Linked DNA regions of Homo sapiens: regions 1 and 3 are each linked to region 2. Evidence: fine-mapped expression QTL. A gene starts in region 2. Each other region holds a variant in brackets. All regions are shown on one strand. Distances are between the middles of the regions.

Evidence for each region. PIP is the estimated chance that this variant, and not a neighbour inherited with it, causes the effect. A credible set is the group of variants that fine-mapping cannot tell apart.
Region 1: its variant is the best candidate, but not a certain one, in a credible set for the expression of POU2AF3 in sun-exposed skin (GTEx, PIP 0.82).
Region 3: its variant is the best candidate, but not a certain one, in a credible set for the expression of POU2AF3 in esophagus mucosa (GTEx, PIP 0.68).

Annotation. Positions count from the first base shown.
Region 1 is chr11:111,367,127-111,371,313 of GRCh38, forward strand. The region is part of intron 1 of POU2AF1 (POU class 2 homeobox associating factor 1); the gene reads right to left. Among named protein-coding and RNA genes, the nearest start is that of POU2AF1, 10 kb to the right of the region's middle. RefSeq lists an enhancer at 590-749. The variant C/T (reference allele first, on the strand shown) is at 2,082.
Region 2 is chr11:111,296,258-111,300,444 of GRCh38, forward strand. POU2AF3 (POU class 2 homeobox associating factor 3) reads left to right here and starts at 2,289. Exons shown (of 5, transcript NM_001271458.2): 1 at 2,289-2,331. The coding sequence starts at 2,325. It overlaps COLCA1 (colorectal cancer associated 1), which reads right to left. Exons shown (of 2, transcript NR_169237.1): 2 at 1-2,409. RefSeq lists a silencer at 3,229-3,428.
Region 3 is chr11:111,389,192-111,393,378 of GRCh38, forward strand. It overlaps a transcript of BTG4 not described here. Among named protein-coding and RNA genes, the nearest start is that of POU2AF1, 12 kb to the left of the region's middle. The variant A/G (reference allele first, on the strand shown) is at 2,079.

The sequences.
Region 1 (4,187 bases), 71 kb after region 2:
AGGCAAGACTCCCAGGGATCCTTTCCCCGGCACTCTCCGCACCTTCCACACCACACCTCCCTTCCTCTGAGCCTCCTGCAGATCAGGTCAAGCACAGAAGGCTGTTTGTACCCATTCTCTGCTCCCAGGGACTCAGGTCTGTTGAATGAATGGGTGGTAAAGGTCCATGTGTTTCCTGGTCACATTCTTAACTCTTGGGAGCTCTGAAATCACCACACTCCTATTTGCATGATGTTCCATAGAGATTTTGACACTAATGATTGCAGATAGAGGCTCAGTACAACGTATTCCTCTTCCGCTCCCTTCCTTTACCGAGAAGGAAATTGATGCTCAGAGATATTCAGTGACTTGCCAAACGACTATACTTGTAAGTAACAGTGTCCTCAACCAAGCCCAGGACCTGTGATTCCAAGTACACTCCACTTCTGCCTCACTGCCTGCCTTGTCTCTGCCCGAGCAAGTCCCATTTTTTTCTCTGAGCGACACTGCAGGTTAATCATCAAATGATTCCTGGCCCCATCCTAACCCTCCTTGCTCCAGTTAAAGTCTGGGCTTGGACTACCCTGATCCAGTCTCCCTCAATTGCCAATTTCCCCAAGAAATGGTGTTGCCCAGCCAAGAGAGGAGAGATCTGTCCACGAGAACCTTGTCAGCAGCCTTCTCACATGAGGAGTGACGAGAACTGAGAGACCCAAACAATTCCCCGCAAGGTTTTATTTTTGGTATTTTTCGACTGAAATGACAGCGGACAGGTCCACCTGAGAAAGCAGCTGCATCTGCCTGCCTTTTACAGAAACTGGGGTCACCGGAGCAGAAAGGGTTCGCAGATACACTGTGTCCCAGGGTAGGGGACAAGACCAAGAGACCCCTGGCAGAGCATTCACTGAACAAGTACTTGCTGAGCAGAACAGATGAGGTTCTTGCCCTCTTGGAGCTTACAGTCTAGTCTAGTGGGGTACACAGACTTTAATCAAATAATTGCACAAACAAATTTAGAATTACAAACTGTGACAGAGCTGCATCTGCCTCAGAACTGAAGTGGTTCTGGTTTGTTTGGTTGGTTTCCACCTACACCTGGTTTAGTAAGGCTTGAACAAGCAGCAAACTGGGGCCCCAAGTCTGTAGAGACTGTATAGAGGTGAGTGCAAGAGATATGACTGTTGGATCTCCAGTGCAGAGGGGCTGGTCTGGGGCCAGAGACTCAGGCCTCACCATGAGCAGACCCTTGTCCCAGACACTCTAAGTGGCAGGTCCTGAGTGAATCCTAAGGGTGTGTCACTAGCTGGTCCTATCCTATCTTGGCTGATTGGCCCACCAAGAGAAGAGGAGTCCAGGGAACTCAGATTCTAAGATGGAAATCAGTAGGTTTCAGAGCTTCCATACTGAGTCTCGAGCGTGACTTGCTAAGATCCAAATCTGCAGAGGCTTTTGTGCCAGGCTAGAGCTACCCTTGATGAAGTCATAACCTGCCTCCATCTAAGCGAGGGCCCTCTTCAACTGGGAGAGGAAGAAGGACCCAGTGCAACACTAAAATCCTTGTCATTGAGAAGCAGTGTGGTACAGTTTGGGACTAGACCTAGTTTAGAAAGCCTGTTATGTTGCTTATCACCTGTGTGACTCTTGGCAAATCACTTAACCATTGTGTGCCTCAGTTTCCCCATCTGCAAAATGAAAGTAATAATATCCATCTCAAAGGGTAATCATGAGAACTGTATGAGATTAACACAATGAAACACCTGGTGCATAATGAGCTCCCAACAAATAGCCCTTTCTCCTTGATCTCAGCCAACAATCCATGGCCCATCTGTCATCGGAGAAGTAGCCTTGGTACAGTGACCCTAACTTGCCTCCATTCAGCTACATCCTGATACTGAATGTCTCTGTCTTCAGCATACCCAGGGCCTTCTGTTGCCTGCCAGGCCTGTCTCTACCTGCCTTCATTATGCTCCTGGAATTAATCCCTCAGGTACCTGGAATCCCCAGGCAGCAAGATACCCCTACTTAGGAGACAGGGAAGCCAATGATGCTGCAGAGGGGCTGGTAAAAGACTTCGCTTTCGTACAGCAATCCTAGACAGGAGA[C/T]GCCAAACCCTGGAAATGGCCTTTTATAAAGATACGATGAGCTGAGCAGAAGACTTCTTTCTTTAGAAGTCACCAGAGGATTAGGTTTGCAGCAGATGTGAGTTTTTAAAGTATGACTTCAGAAATGAAAAACCTTGGATATTTTTGAATGGCAGCGATTAGGTTGCAGACAGAGTATGATGGCATTCCCTTGTCCTGACCTCAGATGCAGCCCCTTAAGGAACCTATATGTATCTCCTAAAGGCCAGGGACACAGCCATGGCTGAGGCTATGTTGTAGATACTCCCTCAAGGGGGCTAGAAACCTAGGAGCACATATCGCATATGGAATAGAAATGTGGCAATGGGCAAGGGAGGGCTCTTCAGTGCCCATAGATGGGAGTTTTATCACCTTGTAGAGCAAAGCAGATTCCTGGATTACATATTTGGCATTGCCTCAAATTTGCTGAGAGTGGGGCATCAGGAAAGAGAAAGGGCCTAAACAGAGCTCCAGACCTACCGTCCCAGACCAGAAGGTGAATGAGGAGAGTCCACCTACCCCAGTGGCCACCCCAATTCTATAGCAAGGCAGTACCATAGTGAGGGATGGAGCAGAGGAAAGGGCTGTCTCTTTCCTTATTAGATCAAGGCTTGAATCTAGAATTGCCCATCTGAGCTAGGATGGGAATAACCTGTGGTTAGGCAGCTGGAGGAGGCAGATGGATATCCGATTTTTTGTTCCTTGATTCAAGCAATATCTAATTTTGGCTTTTCAAGACTAAAGAGCTTTATTGAAAAAACTTAACTTTTCCTGAGACCATCATGTAAGGACCACTTTCTTGGAGAATGGACTCTTCAGATCCCAGCATTAGTTTTGTATTTGGGGTCAGACCCAACTGCCCAAGTTCCAAGGCTCATGGTGGCCTGGGGTGTAGCCTTCGCAAGTGAGAGTAGCCCTAACAATGGATTCATGAGAAACATCACAGCTGGTCAAGAGGAGCTTTCTGGATAATGTTCAGCTTTGCTAACCAATGGCCCTCATGATGCAAGGGATTCCTTTATGAAAGACATTGGAGAAGGGGAGTGGTTGTTAGTATCAAGCCTGAGAAAGAAGTCACTTGGTCAGTTTTTTAGGAATTTACCTCCTCTTTATTCACAAGAGACCCACAAAGACCGAACACATAGTCTTCACAGCTTCAGAGCTTGATGAAGACCAATGCAATATGTTTCACAGCCACTCACTGCCACTCTCTGTGACCAGCTAGCAGGGATCTTGCTAAAAAGAGGGGTAGATTGGCCAGGTCAGGGGGATCCAGCTGTGACCTGAAGAACCCTGGAATATAGTTATGGTGCCTGCAGGTGCCAACAGAGTGAGAATGGCAGGGAAATGTGGGGGAACATGAGCAATCAGAGCTCCAGATAGCCCCCCAAAACCGCACGATTTTTATTCTTATACTGAAGTTCTACAGTAGATTTGGTTTGAATAAGGGAGTTTGTAGCAAAAATGTTATAGACATCAGCCTAAAATCCTTGGATTTTCTTCCCAGTGCTAATATTTTATGTCCTAAGATGCATCTGCACACCCCAGGATCTAAGCAAGAAGTCTGATTACCATCTATTCTTCAGGATCCAAACCCAATGCTATATGTTCCATGACACCTTCCCTGATTCCATCATCCCCACCTTCTGCTGAAGATAATTTATTTCATTGGTTGGTTTCTCTAGCTGGAAATAATTCCATTATTGGATGGATGCTTAGAGGGATGCATACCTGCATGGGATGATGAATAGATGGTTGATTTTCCTTCTATACCTTTCCTTCCTGAATTGGTGTACCTTTCATCCAACATTAAGACTTGCTTCTATTGTCAACTCTCTTGCCTCTCTTCTTTTCTTTCCTTTCTGTCACCTCAGCGTTTCCTAGTCCTGGAAAGTTTTAACAATGTCCTGTATGCTTGCTGTCTTCCAATGAAATGTATGGCTCTTTCTAGTGCATTAAAAAGTAATTCAGTTTAAGACTGGTCAAATCCTTTTTTGTCCCAGCACCTGGTCTGAGAATGATTCTGGTTTATAATCTTTTGGTGACCAGCTCTTCCCAGAAAGTGGTACTAATGAAACTGTTACTAAG
Region 2 (4,187 bases):
GAGGTTGGGACAAAGAGATCCTTGCTGTCCTTACAGACCCCCTGACTTCCAAGGAGCTCCCCTCTCACCCAGCCTGGCCTGCCTTCTCCACAGGGTAGCTGATCGTCAGCATCATCTTCAATGGTGTTGTCAAGAGCACTCAGTGCTCCTGCCATCCCTGTCCATCTCCACATGAAAGGAGAGGTTAGCACTCCAGCCTGGGCGACTGAGCAAGACTCCATCTCAAAAAAAAAAAAAAAAAAAATAGAAAGGAGAGGTTAGGAAGGAGATGAAGCCTGAAAGCACTGGGAGGACACCCCAGCATAGGGGAACACAGAGACACGTGAAGCCAGGGAGAAAACCAGTAGTACAGATAAGAAATGGAAGAAAGCAATGACAGGAAGAGAGACAAAGAAACACAGAAAGAAATAAACAAAAATGCAACAAAGAAGGTTTTTAAAAGCAAATCAAAAAATAAGAGTATAACAAAAAGGAGGAGAGCAGCGAAGAAAAGAAGTAATGGAAGACGCTATGAGGACAAGAGACCATCCCTAGATTCCAAGCTGCTTGGTTCACTGTTCCTTCAGAGGGGGCAAGGCCTAGGCACAGCGAGGAAGAAGGCATGCAGGGAGGGGAGGTGCCATCTCCACCCCCATTGTCCTTCCCCTCCTCAGGTCTGGTCCATCAGGGAAACCTAGGACACAGGCTCAGGGGCATTTGTAGAAAGAAGTTCCAGAAGCTGTCAGATTTCAATACATCCATCCTGCCCTCCACTGCCAGGTGCCACCTCAGGTGTTCCCAGGCCTGCTCCTCTCCCCCAGAGATGTGGCTTCAGCTGCCAAGCAATTCCTATCAGTCTTGTCATTCTCAGTTGCCCTTTCCCTAAGCTCTGTGTGTTTCCCTCTGTATTTGACACATTTGGGGGCACCCCAATCTTTTTCTTGAGGCCTCTGGGGCTAAACTACACTTTTTGCATTTCTGAGAACTCAGAGAATAAACAGCAGAGGCCTAAAACCATGGACTGGTCTTGAATCCTGGAAATATCTTGGTTATTTGCAAAAGGAACCTCACCATGCCTCTCTCTTCTCTTGCTGTCCCCTTCTGTGGAGGGGGCGGGTGGCTATGAGAGGACTTGGCCTGGCACTCTCTCCCTCTGTGGACCATTCCTGTCTCCTCACCTTCCAAATCACATGGAAGAGGCACAGTAAGTACTCACAGAAGATGACCCAGTAGAATCCCAAGTCATTAGTGAGGGGCTTGGGCCTGGACCAAGGGGGAAGCCTGATCCCAAGTCCCTCCCCCTTCTCACCCCAATGGGAGAAGGCTTGAACCTAAGTCCACATCCTTTCAGTTAAAATGAGCAGGAGCCAAACTTGTCATTGTTTCCTAACATGTGCTCCTACAGCAAAAAGGCAGGGGTGGCTCTAGAAGGCGAAAAAGCAAAGAGGGCACTTCGCAGTGCGGTGGTGAAACCCAGAGTCAGAAAGTCTCCAGAGGATGAGGCTCCTGGCATCCCCAGCTCTGTGGGGAGGAGGAAAGGGTCTTAATGGGCAGTCATTCTGAGCAGAAACCCCAGTGTCGGGCCCAGGAAGAGCGGGATGAAAGGGGGAGGGAAGCCCGCTGGTAGCCAGGCGGAGCCAGAAAAATAGGAGGTGCAGAGCGAAGGCCTCTGCTAGGCCGCTGGCCTGCCACCTGGGCCCAGAGCGACTTCTTGCTGTGCCACACCCACTAGCTGCCATGTTCATTCCTCAAAACCTGAGATTTCCCCTCAAAACACAGATGGGGGATGCGGGAATCAGTCTGGCCAGCCAGTCTGGCTCCGGTGTTCATGGCCAGGGCAGCCTAAGTCACTCATGGCTTCTTAGCTGCCCTGAAGGCTGAAATACAGAGCATCTTTGAGGACATCTGCTCTATCTGTGGGAAGGAGGACAAAATGCTCAAACTATAATAAAAGCAAGGGCCAGGACCCAAAGGGGTCTCACTCCCTGTTTCTCTGGACTCTCTGTGGGGTGCCTGTGTGCAGGATTTCTGCAGAAGATAGTCCATTTTGTTAAGCCTTTGAATATTCAAATTGAAAGTATCGCGCAATCATTGATTGTCAAATCATGGGTTTCTAGAGGTTTTAAATACTTGGCATGAGGGGGAAAAAACTCAAACCTATACCCGAAGGTATAAAACATTAATTCTGTTTGTCTCCTGTTCCAGGGACCTGGGTGCAGCCGGATGCTTTGTGAAATTTTAAAAATGTTGCATCTCTGCTTCTCTCCCTGCCCCAGGAGCCCTCCCAGGCGCTGAGTCCCTGCTGCTGCAGCATCCAGCCACCGACCCAGCTCCTGCTGACCACGATGTCGGGTAACTCGGCTGCTTCTCCTAGGGTCGGGTCAGGCGGGCCAGGGGCATTTCAATCCGGGTGTGTTTCCACGGCTTTTCCTGCATAGAACAGAGAGGCACAAAGTCAAGGCATGCGAGTAAGGGCCGGGGATCCGGAGAGGACGCGAGCCACGCTGTGGCCGCTCCCACTCAGCGCCTGTCCCGGAGGGCAGAGGCCCAGAGGCCGAGTTGGCCGCTCCGGACGTCCGCGTACCCCAGGCCCCCGCCCGCCCTCCCACGTATCCACTGTTGTGTCCTGAGACACGCGGTGCGGACCCTGCGCGCCCAGAAGCTGCTACGGGGGGAGCTAGAGGCTCACAGTGAGCCTGGGACGGGGGCAGAGCGCACCGACTGCACTGAGCCGAGCTGTGGCGGTCCCTGCGCGGACCCCGAGGGGCGCCCGCTGCCCGCGGAGTCCGGAGCCGATCGGGGAACGGGGTGGTGGGGCTGCGGTAGGCTGGAGCGCGGAGAGGGCGCGGCGCCTGGGCCCTGCGGGCGGGGCACGGGATTCCCTGGGTCCGGGCTAGGAAGAGCGCAATCTCCTTTCCTGGGGAGACCCTAACTCCTGGAACCCGGCTTGAGGGGGATCCCTGCTGTCCAGCTGCGGTCCCCGCAGTGACCAGGCGAGGCGCTGGCATCCTGGCACTATCTCCAGGCGTCCAGGCTGAACGCGCGGTCACCCTCGGCCGCCGCACCCAGCGCACTTCCCGGCGCGATTCCTGGACGCACACTGCAGGGTAGTGGTCAGGGCCGGAGCCGCCCCGGACTCCTGCGGCCACCTCCACCTTGAAAGCTCGCCCGGCTCGGCTTGGCCTAACAGCCAGTCCCCAACCTACTCACTGCGGCTTTTCGGGGCCCGGGGCTGAGGCTGCCCCTGCTCCCAGCGCTCAGGGGTCCCTCCCAGCGAACCCCTCTTGAGCGCGCCCGCCACCTCCCGCGAGCCGGGGCAGTCCGACCGGGCCCCGCCAGCCCCGGGGCGGCCCCTACCGAAGGGCGGCCTCCCGGCGGAGTGCAGGGTCATCGGGAGCCCCGGACGGCTTTCCCCAGCTCGCGCTGCGCGGACTCGCCCCGGAGCCTCAGTGCGCCTCGGAGAAACGCCTGCCCCAGAAAGGGAGGGGGTAGGGAGAGAGGGGAAGAAGGGGAGAGTAGGAGCGGGGGCGAAGGAGGGAGGAGGGCAAGATGGAGCGCGGAAAAGGCGGAGAAAAGGGACGAGGGAGAGCGGGCAGAAGGCAAAGACAGAAGGGAGCGAGGGAGGGAGTTCCTCGGGCCTGGCCCCTTTACTAGGTCAGTCTGGCAGGTACCTCGCCGGCCCAGGACGGGGCTGGCCAAACCTCACCGCTTGCTCCCGGGCTGGCTTCCAGACCAAGGGCACGCAGAGGTCGGAGCCTGCCCAGAAGCCACACCTGGCCAGGCGGAGAAGGAAGGGACTCGGGACTTCCATGCTAGTGGGAACATCACAGTGGGGTGGGCTACGTCAGCCGCCATAATCAGAGAAAGCCCCCTGCCCCAGGCCTGGCCCCTCCCCAGGTCCATAATACCCTCTCTCTCGGCTGTCTGGGTCTGAAAGCCAAGGTTCCCCCGACCTAATCAGAGTGGTGGGCTCCGCTGCACTGGTCTCCATATTCCAGAGCAGAAAAACCCGTTTGCTATTGGCCTAGGACTGAGGCCCAGCCAGGGGTGGATGGCCCCACAAATTTCCACGGATTCTTTTCCTACTGGGGCTCTGAAACCTGCTCAGCTACTCTTCATTCTTTCAAGTTTGAAATGTTTGGGTTTTTACCATCCTTTGACATTTTTTGTGTGTGTTCTCCGAACTTAGAAACTTGGCTTTGGGTGCC
Region 3 (4,187 bases), 93 kb after region 2:
TTTTCAACTACCACTTCTGTAATTTGGTGGGAAAGTAACTTGAATAAATGAATGAATGAAGAGACAGAGAAAATGAAAACGAGATATAAATAGAAATGTCAGTGTAGGAAGAAAAAAGAGGAAAGAGTGAGAAAGAGATAACGACAACTCAAAATTTTAGACACCTTGAAGGTCCAAAAGAAAAAAAGAAATCTGCTTCCAAAGATAGAGCAGTCAATTCAATTAAGGATTAACTCTACCTGAGGCATTTGTTGGCCATAGTAACACTAGAGTGAGACTAATGAACAAAGTAAGCTAAGCCTGGCCTCAGTGAACCCAGAGACAAAGTCTGACATTCAGTCAATACCTGGGTATCCATGATCCGTGGTCCACCAAAGTGCACAATGCCCAGAATATAGAAAAGACTCTATAAATGGTAGCTAGTTCTGTTATTACTACTTTTTCATTAATAATGAATGTGACAGATTTTGACTTGAACCCAGTGTTGCTATCACTATCTGTGGGAGAAAATACTAATTTTCTTTTAGAAAAAGGTATAATAAATGTAACAGGTGCACAATAAATATAAACTGATCGGCATGAGTACGTTTTTCTTTTAAAAAAACTCTCTTAATTAATGTGTCCCACAACTAGACACAATCACACCATAAAAAAACAAAAGTGGAGGGAGGCAGAAGGAGATAAAACAACTCCAGGAGTTCCATGTGTGCCTTCCAGCTCACAAAGCCAACGAAAGCTAAGACTTCTGGAGCACTGATCATATAGCGAGGAACTGTTCTAAATACTTTACACATATTAGTTCATTTAATCTGCATAACAATGCTTTGAAGTATTAGCCTCATTTTACATATGAGGAAACACAGTGAGGTTAAGAAACTTGGCTAAAATGCACAGTTTATAAGTAGAAGAGCCAGGATTATAATCTGGGCAATCTGACTCCATAGCTTATAATCACCACATCACATTATTCCCCACAACATGCACACACACAAGAAAGTTAAGTCCCAAACAGCTGATCATTCATCCATCCATCCATTCATTCATTCATGCACTCATTCATTCAGCAAATATTTGCTGAATGTCATCCCACTGTCATCCAGTCTGTATTTGGCATTAAGGATGGAACAGTGAACAAGGAAAGTAAGTCTCCTGACTTCTTAGAGCTTACATTCCAGTGGAAGTGGGGAGAGGTAGAGGAGAGGCAGCCAGAACAAATATCTTCCCATCAGAACAAAGAAAGCAGTGGGTCATAAAGTATCTTTCAAAATCAACATCTTGGGCACATTCAGAAAAGCATTTCTAAAAACCCAGCTAAGGGATAAAGATAAAAACTATCAATGGCATCCAACCTAGATATTCTACATGCAACAAATTCAAGAAATATCAGTTGAACACCAGCCAATGCCCTCACAATAACAAAGTAAGAACTGAGCTCAGGGAGCCCTAAGCTCAGTCACACCACAGGAAGTGGGCACTAAGGCTCTGGTGGGCTTTCCACTCTGCGACAGAGACAGAAGGTTTTTTAAGAGTCCAACAGGACTCTGAGCATCTTGACTCTCCCTCTTTCTTCGAAGCCTTCCAGTCCCACTTGAACATCTCATGATGCAACTCAGACCATTTATCTTCCCAAAACAAGGCAACCATTTTGCACCAGTTGAGGCAGACTTCACAGGCAGATGCACAGACTCCAAAGCAAAGTTCCAGGCAGATTGCTAAGCTGACTCAGACCCACCTCCGATGGAGTTTGGATGGCCCAATTTATTAAATGATGCCAAGCCCTGGATTGCAGAAAATTTGGCAGACTTCTGGTGCAAGGAAGCACCTTAGGTTTCTTTCGTAACCAGCAAATTTGGCATAAAAACAGTAATAGAGTATGTGCTCGATAAAGTCTCATTGATTAATTGATAACAGTTCCTTTACTCTTTTTCAGGGGTAGACAACCATATAGACATCAGTGGCTGCATCTGAAGTTGGAGAGCAAGTTCTCCAGCCCAACTATGTTAACGGCAGTCATCAAGCCCCAGGGACCCTATTCAGGATGCTGGTTTTTGAAGACAATGGCCCCAGTTGCTGCGACA[A/G]ACTCCAAACTCATACTGTTCAGAGTCTTGAGTCTTGAGCCAACACACCCATTTTCTGTCGCTCCAAATTTTTTGTAGGTTTTGAAATACAGGCAGGAATTTAGCCAGGTTTATCTAGGAGAAATGTCACGTGAGGCTCAAGGAAGTGTAGAGTTTTGCCAAATGTTACATGAGAATCCTAGTCTTTTCTTTTTTTAGCCACTGGACTCAGGTTACGCAGAACCTAGAACCTCTGCTGGCCGGGACTTCTTCCTCCTCGCCATCCTACAGGCCTGGGCGGCACAGGCGGAGTTATGCCTGAGGCCTCTCACATTTCCAAGGATCACAAGCAGCTTGGAATTGTGTTCCATCTCTCTGGTCCTTGGAACTGTGTTCCAAGCTGCTTGTGATCCTTGGAAATGTGTTTCCAATTGTGTTCCATTTGTGTTCCTTTGGGAAAGTATGGGCAATAGGGAGCCATGGAAGGTTTTTCACTGAGGAGTGACGGGGTCATAGTCACGCTTCTTTTAAAAGTGGCTTTGGCAACAGTGTGAAGATAAATTAGAGTTAGGAGAAAGGGTGGGAGGTTAGAGAGAGTCTTTCTAACAATTGTTTCAGCAAGAATTAACTACGGTTGAAACTGGAGTGGTAACCACAGATGATCCCAAGCCACCTGGCTCTCATTGCGTTCCATTCTGAAAGCTTCGTGTCTCTGCATTCTCGGAATCAGTCACACAGTAAGCACTCAATAAATGTTTGCTGGATTAATGAAAAGTGAATAAATCTAGAGTGAGCCCTTCATTTTTAAAATGAGGAAATAGGACCAGAGAGATGAAATTACCTGCCTATGGTTACCTAGCTAGGCAAGGGCAAAGATAGACCTAGAACCTAGCCTCCAGCTTCCCTTTTCCTGTGATTTTCTTTTTTTTTTTTTTTTTTTTTTTTTTGAGACGGAGTCTTGCTCTGTCACCCAGGCTAGAGTGCAGCGGCACGATCTCGGCTCACTGCAAGCTCTGCCTCCCGGGTTCATGCCATTCTCCTGCCTCAGCCTCCCAAGTAGCTGGGACTACAGGCACCCACCACCATGCCCAGCTAATTTTTTGCATTCTTAGTAGAGATGGGGTTTCACCGTATTAGCCAGGATGGTCTTGATCTCCTGACCTTGTGATCAGCCCGCCTCGGCCTCCCAAAATGCTAGGATTACAGGCATGAGCCACCGTGGCTGGCCTCTAGTGATTTTCAAACTTTGTCATGCATCCAAATCACCATTCCCAGGGTTTCTGATTTGGTAGGTCCAGGACAGGGCCAGAGGACTTGCATTTCTAACAAATTCCGAGGTGATGCTGAGGCTGCCGGTCCAGGGATCACATGTGAGAACCACAGCCTTATCTAGTTCTCTTCTATAACACCTAGCTATCTTGCTCAGAAAGCAGGGCCTCACCTGGCTCCTTCATCCCTCACTGCTTGGCTCTGAGTTTTTGGGAGAATAGACATTCCAGCCTGCACAGTGGTAACATAGTTTGCTAGCTAAGAGCCCAGACCTGCGAGTCAAGTGCCTGGGTTTGATCCTGCCGCCACCAACCTTGTCTCCTCTGGGTATGTACATTATAGAATTCTTGTGAGGGTTAGATTATTGGATGTGTGTAAAACAGTACAACAGTGCCTGGCAAATAGTAAGCACCCAAAAGGGATAGCCATTCTTGCAATCACGGATAGGCTTGAGCCTGGGCCCTGAGGGGAGTCTTATGGTACTGCCTGAACTACAGAGAGGAGTGAGAATATGCCACAGAGTGATGACAGATTATACCATATCGTCACCTAGATTCATGAACATACAATACACATCAACAATGAGTGCAAAGATTGCTAGGAGGGATAGCACTGTGGGCTGATGCTATCTGGATCTCCCCCAAGTTTCCTCCAAATCCACTGTTATCATGGATCTCTTATTACTCTGAGTCAAGGAACCGGATTACTAAATCACAGTTTGTAAATTACGATGAGTCACTTTATCTAATCTAGACGGTCATATGCACTCACCTCTCAGAGGCTGTGATGTCAGCTTGGACAGATTAGAGCATCCAAAGCAAAGGGCAGCATTGAAACACCTGTTCCTTGCAGCCCTCCACA